Regions from separate parts of the Homo sapiens genome. Here region 2 is linked to region 1. Evidence: fine-mapped expression QTL. A gene starts in region 1. The other region holds a variant in brackets. All regions are shown on one strand. Distances are between the middles of the regions.

What was found. PIP is the estimated chance that this variant, and not a neighbour inherited with it, causes the effect.
Region 2: its variant is fine-mapped to the expression of S1PR4 in whole blood (INTERVAL, PIP above 0.99).

What each region holds. Positions count from the first base shown.
Region 1 is chr19:3,173,018-3,182,427 of GRCh38, forward strand. It overlaps S1PR4 (sphingosine-1-phosphate receptor 4), which reads left to right and starts at 5,752. Exons shown (of 1, transcript NM_003775.4): 1 at 5,752-7,315. The coding sequence starts at 5,776. The coding sequence ends at 6,930. RefSeq lists enhancers at 3,734-4,616, 6,200-6,849, 6,890-7,069, 7,110-7,339, 7,950-7,999 and a silencer at 5,420-5,969.
Region 2 is chr19:3,139,695-3,149,104 of GRCh38, forward strand. It overlaps GNA15 (G protein subunit alpha 15), which reads left to right. Exons shown (of 7, transcript NM_002068.4): 2 at 8,897-9,081. GNA15-DT (GNA15 divergent transcript) reads right to left here. Exons shown (of 4, transcript NR_110670.1): 2 at 8,922-9,410; 3 at 3,369-3,499; 4 at 1,882-2,736. Among named protein-coding and RNA genes, the nearest start is that of GNA15, 8.4 kb to the left of the region's middle. RefSeq lists an enhancer at 1,852-2,352. The variant C/T (reference allele first, on the strand shown) is at 5,024.

The sequences.
Region 1 (9,410 bases):
GCCCTCATGGGACAACTGTGTTCTCATGGGACGCCTGTGTTCTCATGGGACGCCTGTGCCCTCATGGGATGCCTGTGTTCTCATGGGACGCCTGTGCCCCTCATGGGATGCCTGTGCCCTCATGGGACGCCTGTGTTCTCATGGGATGCCTGTGCCCCTCATGGGATGCCTGTGTTCTCATGGGACGCCTGTGCCCCTCATGGGATGCCTGTGTTCTCATGGGATGCCTGTGCCCCTCATGGGATGCCTGTGCCCTCATGGGACACCTGTGTTCTCATGGGACACCTGTGCCCTCATGGGACGCCTGTGTTCTCATGGGACGCCTGTGCCCTCATGGGATGCCTGTGCCCTCATGGGACGCCTGTGACCTCATGGGATGCCTGTGTTCTCATGGGACGCCTGTGTTCTCATGGGACGCCTGTGCCCTCATGGGACGCCTGTGTTCTCATGGGACGCCTGTGCCCTCATGGGATGCCTGTGCCCTCATGGGATGCCTGTGCCCTCATGGGACGCCTGTGTTCTCATGGGACGCCTGTGCCCCTCATGGGACGCCTGTGCCCTCATGGGACGCCTGTGCCCTCATGGGACGCCTGTGTTCTCATGGGACGCCTGTGCCCCTCATGGGACGCCTGTGCCCTCATGGGACGCCTGTGCCCTCATGGGACGCCTGTGTTCTCATGGGACGCCTGTGCCCCTCATGGGACGCCTGTGTTCTCATGGGACTCCTGTGCCCTCATGGGACGCCTGTGTTCTCATGGGACGCCTGTGCCCCTCATGGGACGCCTGTGTTCTCATGGGACGCCTGTGCCCTCATGGGACGCCTGTGTTCTCATGGGACGCCTGTGCCCCTCATGGGACACCTGTGTTCTCATGGGACGCCTGTGCCCTCATGGGACGCCTGTGTTCTCATGGGACGCCTGTGCCTCTCATGGGACACCTGTGTTCTCATGGGACGCCTGTGCCCTCATGGGACGCCTGTGCCCTCATGGGACACCTGTGTTCTCATGGGACGCCTGCATTCTCATGGGACGCCTGTGCCCTCATGGGACACCTGTGTTCTCATGGGACACCTGTGTTCTCATGGGATGCCTGTGCCCTCATGGGATGCCTGTACCCCTCATGGGACGCCTGTGTTCTCATGGGATGCCTGTACCCTCATGGGACGCCTGTACCCCTCATGGGACATCTGTGCCCTCATGGGATGCCTGTGCCCCTCATGGGATGCCTGTGCCCTCATGGGACGCCTGTGTTCTCATGGGATGCCTGTACCCTCATGGGACGCCTGTGCCCCTCATGGGATGCCTGTGTTCTCATGGGATGCCCGTGCCCCGCATGGGACGCCTGAATTCTCATGGGACACCTGTGCCCTCATGGGACACCTGTGTTCTCATGGGACGCCTGTGTTCTCATGGGACACCTGTGCCCTCATGGGACGCCTGTGTTCTCATGGGACGCCTGTGCCCTCATGGGACGCCTGTGTTCTCATGGGACGCCTGTGCCCTCATGGGACGCCTGTGCCCTCATGGGACGCCTGTGTTCTCATGGGACGCCTGTGCCCCTCATGGGACGCCTGTGCCCTCATGGGACGCCTGTGTTCTCATGGGACGCCTGTGCCCCTCATGGGACGCCTGTGTTCTCATGGGACGCCTGTGCCCTCATGGGACGCCTGTGCCCTCATGGGACGCCTGTGCCCTCATGGGACGCCTGTGTTCTCATGGGACGCCTGTGCCCTCATGGGACGCCTGTGCCCTCATGGGACGCCTGTGTTCTCATGGGACGCCTGTGCCCTCATGGGACGCCTGTGCCCTCATGGGACGCCTGTGTTCTCATGGGACGCCTGTGTTCTCATGGGACGCCTGTGCCCCTCATGGGACGCCTGTGTTCTCATGGGACGCCTGTGCCCTCATGGGACGCCTGTGTTCTCATGGGACGCCTGTGCCCCTCATGGGACGCCTGTGTTCTCATGGGACGCCTGTGCCCCTCATGGGACACCTGTGCCCTCATGGGACGCCTGTGCCCTCATGGGACGCCTGTGTTCTCATGGGACGCCTGTGCCCCTCATGGGACGCCTGTGCCCTCATGGGACGCCTGTGTTCTCATGGGACGCCTGTGCCCCTCATGGGACACCTGTGTTCTCATGGGACGCCTGTGCCCTCATGGGACGCCTGTGTTCTCATGGGACGCCTGTGCCCCTCATGGGACACCTGTGTTCTCATGGGACGCCTGTGCCCTCATGGGACGCCTGTGTTCTCATGGGACGCCTGTGCCCCTCATGGGACACCTGTGTTCTCACGGGACGCCTGTGCCCTCATGGGACGCCTGTGTTCTCATGGGACGCCTGTGCCCCTCATGGGACGCCTGTGTTCTCATGGGACGCCTGTGCCCCTCATGGGACACCTGTGCCCTCATGGGACGCCTGTGCCCTCATGGGACGCCTGCGTTCTCATGGGACGCCTGCATTCTCATGGGACGCCTGTGCCCTCATGGGACACCTGTGTTCTCATGGGACACCTGTGTTCTCATGGGATGCCTGTGCCCTCATGGGATGCCTGTACCCCTCATGGGACGCCTGTGTTCTCATGGGATGCCTGTACCCTCATGGGACGCCTGTACCCCTCATGGGACATCTGTGCTCTCATGGGATGCCTGTGCCCCTCATGGGATGCCTGTGCCCTCATGGGACGCCTGCATTCTCATGGGACACCTGTGCCCTCATGGGATGCCTGTACCCTCATGGGACGCCTGTGCCCCTCATGGGATGCCTGTGTTCTCATGGGATGCCTGTGCCCCTCATGGGACGCCTGCATTCTCATGGGACACCTGTGCCCTCATGGGATGCCTGTACCCTTCATGGGACGCCTGTGTGTGGTTGCCATGATTACTACCTGAGACTGTCACTACGACAGTTACTATTGTTACTACTTGAGACCATCATTACAAGACTGAACGAAGGGACGAATGTAGAAATGAAAACTTAAGACAGAAGAAACTGTTTTAAAGGAAGGGACCAGGGGAAGAAAAAGAGAGCTCCCTGCTTCTAGTGAGCAAAGGCAGCCCCCCAAGCTTCTACAGCCCTTCGTACTTATTGGGTAGAAAGCAGGGGGAGGAAACGATTGGCCAGCTGCTTGATTGTTCACACGTTCACGTTATTGCTAACAGGTTTCAGATTTGCCTACTTGCAAGAAACACTTGTGCCTGGGGCGTGACTGCCCTCAGCATTCCTTCTGGGCGGCAGACGCAGTTTGTCAGTTTGCCAACAGCCTGCTTTCATGAGAACAGTTTGCTGTTTACTCACGTAGCCTCCAGTGGTATACTGAGTTGATCACAACCCTCATTCTTTCGGCCTTCAACACCTGAGCCCTCACGGGACATCTGTGCCCCTCATGGGACACCTGTGTCCTCGCAGTACACTTGTGACCCTTCCAGGACACCTTACTGGTAGAATTAGTGTAGCTGCCCCCACCCTGAGGCCAAGGACACCATTGTCTCAGGAAGGCTGAAGACCACAGGCTCCTGGGGGGACAGAGGGCAGGTGGGGCCCCTCAGGACCCTCCTTGGTGGTAAGTGGGCCTGGCCTGGGGGTGATTGCAGGCGGGAGGAGGCTCCCAGCAGGGACTTATCCTGGGTCCTACTCACACTTCTGGGGCCTGCATTATTTCCCAAATCACCCCACACCCCAAGGCCTTCTGGATGGGGACGAGTGGGGGGTCACAGACACTGGGGGAGCTGGAGAGCAGAGACCTCACACTCCATCCGTGACAGATGATGTCCAAGCCCCTACATGCCCCAGACCCCAGGGCAAGGCTGAGCCTCCCTCCTCAGACCCCAGGGCAAGGCTGAGCATCCCCACTCAGACCTCAGGGTAGGGCCTCGCCTCCTCCCTTGGACCCCAGGACAGGGCCTCACCTCTCCCCTCAGACCCCAAGGCAGGGCCTCGCCTCCCCCCTCAGACTCAGGACAGGGCCATGCCTCCCCACTCAGACCCCAAGGCAAGGCCAACCCTCACCCCTAGACCCCAGGCAGGTTCAAGCCTCCCCGCTCAAACCTCAGGGCAGGGCATACCTCCCTCCTCAGACCCAGGGCAGGGTGTGTCTCCCCTCTCAGACCACAGCACAGGGCCTCGCATCCCTCCTCAGACCCCAGGACAAGGCTGAGCCTCTCCGCTCAGACCCCAGGGTAAGGTCATGCCTCCCCTCTCAGAACCTAGGGCAAGGCCAACCCTCCCCCCTCAGACCCCAGGCAGGTCCAAGCTTCCCCCTCAGACGCCAGGGCAGAGCCTGCCTCCCTCCTCAGACGCCAGAGCAGGGTGTGTCTCCCACTTAGACCCACAGCCACCTCACCTCAGGCTGAGTCACCGTGAGCCGTTGTCAGCAGGGCCATGGGGATGGGGTGAGCAAGTCCCTACTTTTCCTATGCACCTCAATCCCAGTGGGGGGCTGCCCCAGGGGGCCAGCAGCTCTGCTCCCAGCAGGGTGAGCTCAGGGGCAGGAGAGGCAACCATGAATCCCAAAATGGGCGCCTGGCCCCGAGACCCTACCAGCTTGTCCCTGGGGGTCTCTCTCCCTGGACCTGTGTGTCCTCCCATGGGCAGAAAGTTGGCCTCAGGCCGCCTTTGTGGGCCTCAGTTTTCCCTTCTGTAACGCATCAGGCTCTCTGGGCCTCAGTTTCCCCTTCTGCAACGCATCGGGCTCTCTGGGCCTCAGTTTCCCCTTCTGCAACGCATCGGGCTCTCTGGGCCTCAGTTTCCCCTTCTGCAACGCATCGGGCTCTCTGGGCCTCAGTTTCCCCTTCTGCAACGCCTCGGGCTCTCTGGGCCTCAGTTTCCCCTTCTGCAACGCATCGGGCTCTCTGGGCCTCAGTTTCCCCTTCTGCAACGCCTCGGGCTCTCTGGGCCTCAGTTTCCCCTTCTGCAACGCCTCGGGCTCTCTGGGCCTCAGTTTCCCCTTCTGCAACGCATCGGGCTCTCTGGGCCTCAGTTTCCCCTTCTGCAACGCATCGGGCTCTCTGGGCCTCAGTTTCCCCTTCTGCAACGCATCGGGCTCTCTGGGCCTCAGTTTCCCCTTCTGCAACGCCTCGGGCTCTCTGGGCCTCAGTTTCCCCTTCTGCAACGCCTCGGGCTCTCTGGGCCTCAGTTTCCCCTTCTGCAACGCATCGGGCTCTCTGGGCCTCAGTTTCCCCTTCTGCAACGCATCGGGCTCTCTGGGCCTCAGTTTCCCCTTCTGCAACGCACCGGGCTCTCTGGGCCTCAGTTTCCTCTTCTGTAACGCATCAGGCCCTGTTTCGGGGATCAAGTCGGATGAGTCAGTGCTCAAGGGCATGCAGGCACTTGACATTTATTAGGCACCTGCTGTGTGCTGAGCGCCGGTGGAGCATGTGGGGAGACCTCAGTGGAGCCGACGGGTGCTTCGGGGGTGATCAGGGCTGGTGGGGAGGAGTCGTCCGGCTGGAAAGGGGTGGCCCATCCCGAGTGGGGACTCATTTCCCCTCCGTGACTGACGGCTCCGGGGCTCCCTGCGGGTCTCCGGCTTTCGAGGACAGGAAGAAGGCAGCCAGGGCAGGGGTGGGGGTCCTCACAGCCAGGGCAGCCCCAGCGCGTTGGCTCCAGGAGCCCGGGTGGGGGCCGACCGTTGGGGTGCCCCTCCCTGTCCTCGGCCTTACCTCCACCCTGGAGGGCACCTTGAACATAACAGGAAATTTCAAATAACAGGAAACCAAGACCAGCAAGGCGGGTGGCTCCACCCTGCGTCGGGCCTCAGTCAGCCCCCGGGGGAGGCCATGAACGCCACGGGGACCCCGGTGGCCCCCGAGTCCTGCCAACAGCTGGCGGCCGGCGGGCACAGCCGGCTCATTGTTCTGCACTACAACCACTCGGGCCGGCTGGCCGGGCGCGGGGGGCCGGAGGATGGCGGCCTGGGGGCCCTGCGGGGGCTGTCGGTGGCCGCCAGCTGCCTGGTGGTGCTGGAGAACTTGCTGGTGCTGGCGGCCATCACCAGCCACATGCGGTCGCGACGCTGGGTCTACTATTGCCTGGTGAACATCACGCTGAGTGACCTGCTCACGGGCGCGGCCTACCTGGCCAACGTGCTGCTGTCGGGGGCCCGCACCTTCCGTCTGGCGCCCGCCCAGTGGTTCCTACGGGAGGGCCTGCTCTTCACCGCCCTGGCCGCCTCCACCTTCAGCCTGCTCTTCACTGCAGGGGAGCGCTTTGCCACCATGGTGCGGCCGGTGGCCGAGAGCGGGGCCACCAAGACCAGCCGCGTCTACGGCTTCATCGGCCTCTGCTGGCTGCTGGCCGCGCTGCTGGGGATGCTGCCTTTGCTGGGCTGGAACTGCCTGTGCGCCTTTGACCGCTGCTCCAGCCTTCTGCCCCTCTACTCCAAGCGCTACATCCTCTTCTGCCTGGTGATCTTCGCCGGCGTCCTGGCCACCATCATGGGCCTCTATGGGGCCATCTTCCGCCTGGTGCAGGCCAGCGGGCAGAAGGCCCCACGCCCAGCGGCCCGCCGCAAGGCCCGCCGCCTGCTGAAGACGGTGCTGATGATCCTGCTGGCCTTCCTGGTGTGCTGGGGCCCACTCTTCGGGCTGCTGCTGGCCGACGTCTTTGGCTCCAACCTCTGGGCCCAGGAGTACCTGCGGGGCATGGACTGGATCCTGGCCCTGGCCGTCCTCAACTCGGCGGTCAACCCCATCATCTACTCCTTCCGCAGCAGGGAGGTGTGCAGAGCCGTGCTCAGCTTCCTCTGCTGCGGGTGTCTCCGGCTGGGCATGCGAGGGCCCGGGGACTGCCTGGCCCGGGCCGTCGAGGCTCACTCCGGAGCTTCCACCACCGACAGCTCTCTGAGGCCAAGGGACAGCTTTCGCGGCTCCCGCTCGCTCAGCTTTCGGATGCGGGAGCCCCTGTCCAGCATCTCCAGCGTGCGGAGCATCTGAAGTTGCAGTCTTGCGTGTGGATGGTGCAGCCACCGGGTGCGTGCCAGGCAGGCCCTCCTGGGGTACAGGAAGCTGTGTGCACGCAGCCTCGCCTGTATGGGGAGCAGGGAACGGGACAGGCCCCCATGGTCTTCCCGGTGGCCTCTCGGGGCTTCTGACGCCAAATGGGCTTCCCATGGTCACCCTGGACAAGGAGGCAACCACCCCACCTCCCCGTAGGAGCAGAGAGCACCCTGGTGTGGGGGCGAGTGGGTTCCCCACAACCCCGCTTCTGTGTGATTCTGGGGAAGTCCCGGCCCCTCTCTGGGCCTCAGTAGGGCTCCCAGGCTGCAAGGGGTGGACTGTGGGATGCATGCCCTGGCAACATTGAAGTTCGATCATGGTACGTGATGTTGCGGCCTCTTATTCCCTGGTGCGTGCATGCGTGGGGGCCGTGGCTCAGGGGGGCTGTGGATCTAGGGGCAGCCGGGTGTGTCTTTGCTAGAGAGGGCCACGGGCCAGTGCCCTGTGAGGGTGGAGTGTGTGTGTGTGTGTGTGTGTGTGTGTGTGTGTGTGGACAACCTCTGGGCGTTGCGGGAAGTGGGGGTGACAATGACAGTTAATGCCGCCTCTTCTTGTTCACTTCCCCTTTAGAAATGGCAGGGCCCATGCCCCATCTCTGGCCTCTGCATCTTTTGGGGACCCACTCTCTGGGGCTGGCAGAGGCACCACCTTGGCTTCCTGGGCTGGGGGAATCTTCCCTCACATCCCCTTCAGCATGAACGGCCTCGGCTTTCCCGGTGGGTAAAACAGTTTAATCACTGAAGCCGAAGCACAGGGTTGATTGTACACGCTCCCCGCCAGCCACAGGGGCTGACAACTGCCTGCCCCGTGAAACTCCAGTGGAGACGTTTCAGCTCCACACCATTCAGTATGGGAGACGCCAGCCCCACGGGGCTACGGTGCAAGCAGATAACTGAATTTCGAAGTGTAGGTTGTGTTTAATTTGAATCTGTTTATATTTCGGTAGCCCCATGGGGCGGGTGGCCACAGTTTCAGTGCAGATGTAAATCCGGAAGCCTCCAGCACCTGCAGCTCATAGACAGCTCTCGCCCACCTTCTCCCAGGACCAAGCCAGTCCCGTCCAGTCCAGTGTCTGAGCAGAGTCAGAATCCACACCACCCGCCGCCTGGGCTCAGAAAGTTCTGCTTTAAGTCATTATTTCTCCACTGTACGATGGGGAATGCGGTGTGTGGGGGCCATTTACCCACCAACACAGCAGCTGTGAGGCACACACGGCTATTGAAAATTCATGGAAATTGCTGGGTGTGGTGGCTCATGCCTGTAATCCCAGCACTTTGGGAGGCCGAGGCAGGAGGATTGCTTGAGTGCAGGAGTTCCAGACCAGCCTGGGCAACATAGCGAAACCACATCTCTACAAAAAAATCCTCCAAAATTAAAAAAATTAGCCCGAGCATGTTGTTGCATGCCTGTGGTTCCAGCTACTCGAGAGGCTGAGGTGGGAGGATCACTTGAGCCCGGGAGGTCGAGGCTGCAGGGAGCGGTGATCGTGCCAGCCTGGGTGACAGAGTGAGACCCTGTCTCTAAAAAAAAATTAAAAAAAAAAAAAAAAGAAAATTCATTGAAATTAAATGAAAGTTAGGCCAGGTGCATTGGTTCATGCCTGTAATCGCAGCACTTTGGGGGGCCGAGGTGGGTGGATCATGAGGTCAGGAGTTCAAGACCAGCCTGGCTAAGATGGTGAAACCCTGTCTCTACTAAAAATACAAAAAATAAGCTGGGTGCGGTGGCAGGCGCCTGTAATCCCAGCTACTCGGGAGGCTGAGGCAGGAGAATCGCTTGAACTCGGAGGGTGGAGGTTGCAGTGAGCTGGGATTGCTCCACTGCACTCCAGTCTGGGCGATAGAGTGAGACTCCGTCTCAAAAAACAAAACAAAAACAACAACAAAAAAGAAATTAAATGAAAGTTAAAAATTTAGTCTCTCAGTGTATTGATTTGCTAGGGCAGCCATGACAGTCTCACAGATGGAGAGGCTTGAAAACAGACATTTATGCTGCCATAATTCTGGAAGCCAGAAGTCTGAGATGAAGGTGTGAGTAGGGCTGGGTCCTCCTGAGGCTGACGGGGATCTGCCCAGGCCTCTCCCAGTTCCTGCTGGTGGCCGGCGTCCTTGATGTTCCTTGGCTTGGAGAAGCGTCAGCCGCATCTCTGCCTCCATCTCCACAAGGCGCCCTCCCTGGGTCTGTATCCAAACTCCCCCAACTCCTTCAACCTTTTTTATTTTAAGAGATGAGGGGCCGGGCGCCGTGGCTCACGCCTGTAATCCCAGCACTTTGGGAGGCCGAGGTGGGCGGATCACGAGGTCAGGAGATAGAGACCATCCTGGCTAACACGGTGAAGCCCCATCTTTACTAAAAATACAAAGAATTAGCCAGGCGTGGTGGCGGGTGCCTGTAGTCCCAGCTACTCTGGAGGCTGA
Region 2 (9,410 bases), 33 kb before region 1:
TGAGAACATCCTGGCTAACACGATGAAACCCCGTCTCTACTAAAAATATAAAAAATCAGGGCTGGGTGCGGTGGCTCACGCCTGCAATCACAGCACTTTGGGGGGCCGAGGAGGGTGGATCACGAGGTCAGGAGATGGAGACCATCCTGGCTAATGTGGTGAAACCCCATCTCTACTAAAAATACAAAAATTAGCCAGGCGTGGTGGTGCGCACCTGTAGTCCCAGCTACTTGGGAGGGTGAGGCAGGAGAATTGCTCTAACTTGGAGGCAGAGGTTGCAGTGAGCCAAGATCACACCACTGAACTCCAGCCTAGGCAATAAGAGTGAAACTCCATCTCAAAAAAAAAAAATCTATCTATCTATCTATCTATCTATCTATCTATCTATCTATATTTGACATATTAATGTGTCATATTATGTCACATTATGACGTATCATATCGATATGTCTTATTATTTTAAATAAATAGGGCTACTTAGGCTATCTACTTCTTCTTGTGTGGGTTTTGATCATTTGTGTCTTTCAAATAATTTGTCCATTTTGCCTGTGTTATCAAATTTATTGGCATAACATTTATAACGTTCCCTTGTTCTCCTGCTACTGTCTGTAGGATCTGCAGTGATGTCCTCTCTTTTGCTCTTGGTATCGATCATTTCTGCCTTTGCTCATTTTTTTCTTGATCTATCAAGCTAGGGGTTTATCACTTTTAGTGCTCTTTCCTCGAATACCTCAAGGTCATTTATCCCTGACCTTTGCCTGGCTGGCCCTTTCACTCCATGTAGGTCTCAACCCAAGTGTCGCCTCCTCAGAGAAGTCTTCCCTGACTACCCTAGCTATAAAGACAGTCCTATCTTCTCCTTCCCCTTACTCTGTTTGATTTTTCTTCCTGGCCCTCACTATTTGTTCACTTGTTTATTGTTTATCTCTCCAGCTATACAGCAAGCAACAAAAGGGTAGGGACCACATCTGTCTTCTTCATCCCTGTGTCTCCAGCATCTAGCACAGGTGTACAATGAGCCTGCCATATAGTAGATGCTCAAGAAATGCTGAATGAATGAATGAATGAATGAATGAATCATTTTTGGGGAGAACTTCCCCCAGACACTGTATCATATCTTCCTGGAGCTGGGAAAGTCCCTTCCACATACCACTCTGGGCACTACTCAGCCAGCCTCAAAGCAGGAAGCCCCTTCTACTGATGGAGGGCAGGGGATGACATCCATGTCCCCAGGCACTGATGTAGCACTGTGGACTGTGGTTTAAACCACCTCATCCCTGGAGACAGGTCTGAGGGCAACCTCCAGACCTCTGTCCCTTCTTGGAAACAGGAATTGAATCCAAAAGCTGTTTTTTTTTTACCTGGAGGTGGCTGATCCTTTTGAGGAAGATGGCAAAAAGGACCAGGGTGGGGGTGGGTCTGTCCCTGACATGAAGCAACCCTCATATTGGGGAAGGGGGAGAGTCAGAATGAAGCCGTGAGCCGGGTATGGTGGCACATACCTGTAGTCCCAGTTACTCGGGAGGCTAAGGCAGGAGGATTGCTTGAGCCCAGGAGTTCAAGACCAGCCTGGACAACATTGCGAGACCCAGTCTCTAAACAAAAACAAAAAAAGAAAAGAAAAGAAAGTGAACAACAACAAAAACAGGAAAATAAAGCTGTGAAAGGGACCAGTTATGTCCTTAGCACTTTAAACATTTTATTTTTTATTTTTATTTTTGAGACAGAGTCTTACTCTATCACCCCGGTTGGAGTGCAGTGGTGCGATCTCGGCTCACGGCAACCTTTGCCTCCTGGGTTCAAGCAATCCTCTTGCCTCAGCTTCCTGAGTAGCTGGGACTACAAGTGTGCACCATCATGCCCAGCTAATTTTTGTATTTTTAGTAGAGACGGGGTTTCACCATGTTAGCCAGGCTGGTCTCGAACTCCTGACCTCAGGTGATCCATCTGCCTTGGCCTCCCCAAAGTGACGAGATTAGAGATGTGAGCCATTGTGCCCGGCCTGTTCTTAGCACTTTGAGGCAGGCACTCCTAGTTTCCCCCAAAGGATAAACTGAGGCTCAGAGAGGCAGAGCGACTTGCCCAAGGTCACACAGCTGAGACTCGCACCTAGAATTCTGGTTCCAAAGTCCATGCTCCTGACTGCCCTGTTCGCCTGCCTTGGGGGACAGAAACACCACAGAACCCCAGTGCCAGATGGGGAAAATGAGGCCCAAGGAGGCAGCAGGATTGATTGGGGGTCAGCAGCTAGTTTGAGCCAGAGCGGGACTGAGAGGCCGAGCCTCCTGCCCCTGCGGCTGCCTGGCCTGGCTCCCCACTTCCCCAGCAGCTGCGTTTCCTGTGAGGGCCTGGTGCTGGACTCTGTGCACATAGCTGGCTCCAGTTGCCTTGTGATGACTGGGGCTTGGCACGGTTAACCCAGTTCCTTCCTGGCATCTGCCGGTTCCACTTCCTCCTGTCCTCCTCCGTGCCCAGGAGGAAGCAGGAACTTCCCGTCTGGGCCGCATGGCCTTTGGGGGTATCCTAAAACAGATCACTCCCACCATTTCTATCCAGGAGCTGGGGGATGTCTGGGGGTCGGGGGGCAATGGAGAGGTCCCAGAATCCTTTGTGGCTTCAGGACAGCAATGGATTGCAAAGAGGGGGTTCTCACGCAGCTCTTCAGGCTTCGGGTGATGACCCATCCCTGAGTCATCAAATCTGTGTCGCGGGTGGCAACAGGATTATCATTTATTTCCTATAACAAAGCAGAAGAGGAAAAAAAAATCAGTGCATCACAAAATAAAGCCAACTGTTGCTTGCCAAGACTTATGTTTGTTCTCTGCACTTTGGGGCAAACTAAGATCTGAGAGTTGGAAGACAACTGGGGGACAGGAGCCCAAAAGGTCCAGTCCTGGCTGGGCGCGGTGGCTCAGGCCTGTCATCCCAGCACTTTGGGAGGCTGAGGAGGGGTGGATCACTTGAGGCCAGGAGTTCAAGACCAGTCTGGCCAACATGGTGAAACCTCGTCTCTACTAAAAACACAAAAATTAGCCGGGTGTGGTGGTGCACGCCTCTAATCCCAGCTGCCTGGGAGGCTGAGGCAGGAGAATCGCTTGAACCTGGGAGGAGGAGGTTGCGGTGTGCTGAGATCACACCATTGCACTCCAGTCTGTGTGACAGAGCCAGACTCTATATCAAAAAATAAAAATAAAAACAAAAAGTAAAAAAAAGGAAGAAGAAGATCTGAGGGTTGGAAGGCAATTGGGGGACAGGAGCTCAAAAAGTCCAGTCATCGGCAGTTGGGCTCAATGCCACACCCCAAGGAGCTGTCGAGCCTCCCAGACTCTGTAAAAACATTGCTTTAACAGACGTGTTAATGACACCTACCCCAGCTCGACTGGCCGTGTCCCATTTTGTTGGTGAAGGACTCACACGACCCCAAGTTTACTCCCCTGGGGTTCCACTTGCTGTGTGACCCAAATTAAGTCACTAAACCTCTCTGGTCCTCTGTGTCTCATCTGCAAATGGGAAAATCATAGAATCTGTGAGGATTAACTGGGGATCCGTAGAGTCTCTGGGCTCGGGGTTGGGAAGACGGTAAGATTTAAATCATGCTAGCTGTGATTTTTATTATGATTGTTATAATCATTCAGGCAGGGTAAAGGAACCTCCAGGTATAATAATTTAGAAACCCATAAGCTCAAGGTGGCTCATGCCTGTAATCCCAGTACTTTGGGAGGCCAAGGCAAGTGGATCCCTTGAGGCCAGGAGTTCGAGACCAGCCTGGCCAAAATGGCAAAACCCTGTCTCTACTAAAAATACAAAAATTAGCCGGACACGGTGGTGCACACCTGTAATGACAGCTAGTCTGGAGGTTGAGGCAGGAGAATCGCTTGAAACCCATGAGGTGGAGGTTGCAGTGAGCCAATATCAAGCCACTGCACTCTAGCCTGGGTGACAGAGTGAGACCCTGTCTCAAAAATAATAATAATAATAAAAAATAAAAGCCCATAGGCTCTAGACTCAAACAGAACTGAGTTTGAATCCCAGTCTGCCACTCACCAGGACCATTGAAGGAATTGTGCGACCCACAGCAATTCCCTCAACGGCCCCGAGACTGAGTTTCCCCACATGGAAACAGGGCTAAGAGTTGTCCCTCTCTTGGCCAGGCGCAGTGGCTCACGCCTGTAATCCCAGCACTTTGGGAGGACGAGGCGGGTGGATCACAAGGTCAGGAGATCGAGACCATCCTGGCTAACATGGTGAAACCCCGTCTCTACTAAAAAAAAACAAAAAAAATTAGCTGGGCATGGTGGTGGGCGCCTGTCGTCCCAGCTGCTTGGGAGGCTGAGGCAGGAGAATGGCGTGAACCCGGGAGGTGGAGCTTACAGTGAGCCGAGATCGCGACACTGCACTCCAGCCTGGGCGATAGAGCAAGAAAGACTCCCTCTCAAAAAAAAAAAAAAAGAGTTGTCCCCCTCTCGTGGTGAGGCTCAGGACAGATGGTGGGACTCCAGCTCTTAGCTCACCAGGGACACCCAGTCAAGGGCCAGCAAGCTCACAATTCCCTCTGCTACTAGCCCCAAATAGCCAAAGCTCCAAAAACTTGATGGTCCCCCATAGTGTCTCCATGAGAAACTCAAAGAAACGGGTGGGAGGATGTTTGTTTATTGCACTGACTCCCATTCCTACATTCCGCTGCAGGAATATTAGTGAGTTGACATGTCCCCATCCTAACATGCAATAAATTCTGGAATCTGAAGCTCTCACAGCTCTGCATCAGAGAATTTCAGATTGTGGACCTGGGGGATGTTGTCGTTTGAGTAGTTTGTTTGTTTATTTATTTATTTATATTTTATTTATTTTTTTTTGAGTCGGAGTCTCGCTCTGTCACCCAGGCTGGAGTGCAGTGGCATGATCTCGGCTCATTGCAAGCTCCGCCTCCCCGGTTCACGCCATTCTCCTGCCTCAGCCTCCCAAGTAGCTGGAACTACAGGCGCCCGCCACCATGCCCGGTTAATTTTTTGTATTTTTAGTAGAGA[C/T]GGGGTTTCACCGTGTTAGCCAGGATGGTCTCGATCTCCTGACCTCGTGATCCGCCCGCCTTGGCCTCCCATAGTGCTGAGATTACAGGCGTGAGCCACCGGGCCCGGCCCTTTATTTTTATTTTTTTTGAGACAGAGTCTGGCTCTGTCACCCAGGTTGGAGTGCAGTGGCATGATCTCGGCTCACTGCAGCCTCCGCCTCCCAGGTTCAAGCAATTCTCCTGCCTCAGCCTCCTGTGTAGCTGGGATTACAGGTGCGCGCCACCATGCCCAGCTAATTTTTGTATTTTTAGTAGAGACAGGGTTTTTGTATTTTTAGTAGAGACAGGGTTTCACCATGTTGGTCAGGCTGGTCTCGAACTCCTGACCTGGTGATCTGCCTGCCTCAGCTTCCCAAAGTGCTGGGATTACAGGCATGAGCCACTGCGCCCAGCCCTAGTTTTTAATTTTTTTTGGAAACTTTTTTTTTTGAGACAAGGTCTTGTTCTGTCACCCAGGCTGGAGTGCAGTGGTGTGATCATGGCTCACTGCAGCCTCAACCTCCTGGGCTCAAATGATCCTCCTACCTCAGCTTCATGAGTAGCTGTAACTACCAGTGTGCACCACTACGTCTGACTAAATATATATATATATATATATATATTTTTTTTTTTTTGTAGAGATGGGGTCTCACTATGTTGCCCAGGGTGGTCTTGAACTCCTTGGCCCAAGCCGCCCCCCTCCCTTAGCTTCCCAAAGCACTGGATTTATAGGCATGAGCCGCTACACCATGCCCAAGCATATACACTGTTTTCTGAACCATTTTTGACTAAGTTGCAGACCTGGTACCTTTTTTTATTTTTTTATTTTTGAGATAGAGTCTCACTCTGTCACCCAGGCTGGAGTGTAGTGGCACGATCTCAGCTCACTGCAACCTCTGCCTCGAGTTCAAGCAATTCTTCTGCCTCAGCCTCCCGAATAGCTGGGATTACAGGCGCCCACCAGCATGCCCCGCTAATTTTTGTATATTTAGTAGAGACAGAGTTTCACCGTGTTGGCCAGGCTGGTCTCGAACTCCTGACCTCAAGTGATCTGGCCACCTCAGCCTCCCAAAGTGCGGAGATTATAGGCGTGAGCCACTGTGCCCAGCCGAGAAAAGCCTGTTTCTTGACTTTGAGCCAAATAGACATGACCCCTGGAGAAACTGAGGACTGGAGAGTCGAGGCGGCCACCCCCGACCTGCCCCCATGGCTCTCCAGTGTGCAGGTGGCACCTGCTAGGTGGAGTTGGAGGCGTTGGAGACAGCCCTTTGGGGAGATGGGAGGTGACACCCCCGCCCCTTCTCCGTGCTCCGGCCTTCTCCTCTGCTCCCATTTCCTCTTTCTGGGCCCCAACCAAGCCACTCCTTCCCTTTTTGCTGCCGCTTGCTCGATCAAGTCCTGCCTGCACCGACCCCTACCCCCGCCCTCTGCACGCCAACCCTGGAGGCAGAAGCAGTCCCATCCCCTCTCCCATCGCTGGTTGGGGCCCATGCTGGTGCCCCCAGGAGCCAGACGAGATGCTGGGCAAGCCTCCAGCCCCCACCTCCCACCTGGTGGATCATACCCATTTTACAGATGAGAAAATTGAGACACAGAGAGGGGGAAGGGCAGCCTTGGGATGTCAGAGCTTAGCGGGGGGCTGAGCTGGTGTCTTTGAACCTCTAGTCCCAGGCTCTTGAAGACTCCAGCATCAGTATCCCGGACCCAGGGCCGGTTTGGCAGGTGCGCGAACTGGGCTGTCCCAGAGGGTTCCAGGCTCAGAAGAGCCTGAAGTTTCAGCTTGCACCCAGCCCCAGAAAATCTGTGGCTGGCCCTGCAAGGACCCTGCCAGATTTTGTACCATCTGTCAGCAAGGTCAGGTCGATTCTGTCTCCCCAGTGTCTCTCAAATATGTCCTCTCCTCTCCAGCTCCATGACAGCCACATTGGTCCAGCCCCACGGTTGCTCACCTGAACCAACGCAGTCCCCACTGCCCTGGTCCGGGCTCCCCCAGACCACCCCCCACAGCCTGTCCTCCCTGCAGCAGCCACCAGAGGGCGCCTGTGAGCACCTGAGTCAGGGCCAGTCCCTCCTCTGCCCACAGCCCTCCATGGCTCCCAAGTCCCTCAGGGTCAAAGCCCAAGACTTCCCTGCAACCCACAAGGCCCAGCACAACCCACCCTCCCCTCCTTCCTCTCTCCCCCTCCTCACTCTGCTCCAGCCACAAGGGCCTCCTCACTGTTCCTCCAATATGCCAGGTGCGGCCCTGCCCCAGGGCCTTTGCACAAGCTGTTACTGTCACCTGGTGTGCCCTCTAAGATTTTGACAGCCACCTTCCGGCCTTCACAAATCACTTTCACTGAGAGGCCTTCCTTGACTGCTCACAAATCACTTCCACTGAGAGGCCTTCCTTGACTGCGTGGCTATCGTAGTCACCTAATTACTCCTTGCCCTATTTATCCTATGTTATTTCTTTCGTAAAAGTTTCTCTACCTGAAATTATTGTAGCAAATAATAATACATATTAGTATTGTTATGATAAATAATAAAAATAGGCCAGGCACGGTGGCTCACGCCTGTAATCCCAGCACTTTGGGAGGCCGAGGCAGACGGATCACTTGAGCCCAGGAATTTGAGACCAGCCTGGCTAACATGGTGAAACCACAGCTGTACTAAAAATACAAAAATTAACTAGGCGTGGTGGCACGCGCCTGTTACCCCAGCTACTTGGGAGGCTGAGGGAGGAGAATCACTTGAACCTGGGAGCCAGAGGTTGCAGTGAGCTGAGATTGCGCCATTGCACTCCAGCCTGGGCAACAGAGAATCTGTCTAAAAAAAAAGAAAAAAAGAAAAAAGAAAAAAACCCATAAGAACCATAACCATAAAAAGTATTAAAAACACAAAAACTGGCCAGGCGCGGTGGCTCACGCTTGTAATCCCAGCACTTTGGGAGGCCGAGGCGGGTGGATCACGAGGTCAAGACCACGGTGAAACCCCGTCTCTACTAAAAATACAAAAAAATTAGCCGGGCGTGGTGGCGGGTGCCTGTAGTCCCAGCTACTCAGAGAGGCTGAGGCAGGAGAATGGTGTGAACCCGGGAGACGGAGCTTGCAGTGAGCCGAGGTCGCGCCACTGCACTCCAGCCTGGGTGACAGAGCAAGACTCCATCTCAAAAAAAAAAAAAAAAAGAAGAGAAAAAGAAAACAAAAACAAACAAAAACTTTCTGGCCACACAAAGATAACTGGATCTGGCCCTCAAGCAGCCGGAGTTTGCGACCCTTACCGTGAGCATTTTATAATCAATTCATTTGGCCCTCAGTTTGATGCAGCAGGCATGGTCTGTTGAGGTCCATGTTTTGTTTTTTTTGTTTGTTTGTTTTGTTTTTTTTTGAGACAGAATCTCGCCCTGTCGCTCAGGCTGGAGTACAATGGTGTGATCTCAGCTCACTGCAATCTCTGCCTCCCAGGTTCAAGCGATTCTCCTGCCTCAGCCTCCTGCGTAGCTGGGATTACAGGCGTGAGCCACCACACCCGGCTAATTTTGTATTTTTAATAGAGATGGGGTTTCGCCATGTTTACCAGGTTGGTCTCTAACTCCTGACCTCAGGTGATCCGCCTGCCTCAGCCTCCCAAAGTGCTGGGACTACAGGCATGAGCCACCGTGCCCAGCCTGAGGTTCATGTTTTACAGATGGGGAAACCAAGGCACAGAGCGGCAAAGCCGCTAGCCTAGGGTCACTGAGTGAGGTCCCGGCTGCACCGGGGTTTGAACCCAGGAGGCCTGGCGTGGAGTTGGGGGTGTCTGACGTGGGGTTGGGGGTGTCGGGGGTGGGAGTCCCGTGGAGGGCTGAGCGGTTCTGCTGCTCCATCCCCAGGCCCAGGCGAGAGCGGGAAGAGCACCTTCATCAAGCAGATGCGGATCATCCACGGCGCCGGCTACTCGGAGGAGGAGCGCAAGGGCTTCCGGCCCCTGGTCTACCAGAACATCTTCGTGTCCATGCGGGCCATGATCGAGGCCATGGAGCGGCTGCAGATTCCATTCAGCAGGCCCGAGAGCAAGGTGAGCCGCCAGGGCAGGCAGGGGCCCAGGGCAGGCAGGGGCCCAGGGCAGGGTTCCCCAGACCCCGGAGCAGGGCCAAGTTCCCCAGACTTCAGGGCAGGGCAGGGCAGGGCAGGGCAGGCAGGGAAGGGTCCCCAGACCCTGGGGCAAGGCCATGTCCTCCAGACATATGTGCATACATACAAGTGCACACACAAGTATACACGCATAAATGCACACACGCACATGTATGCACACGCACAGACATGCACACAAGGACACACACGTACATGCTCACAAAGATACACACGCATGCCCACATGCACACACCCACACACATACACAAATGA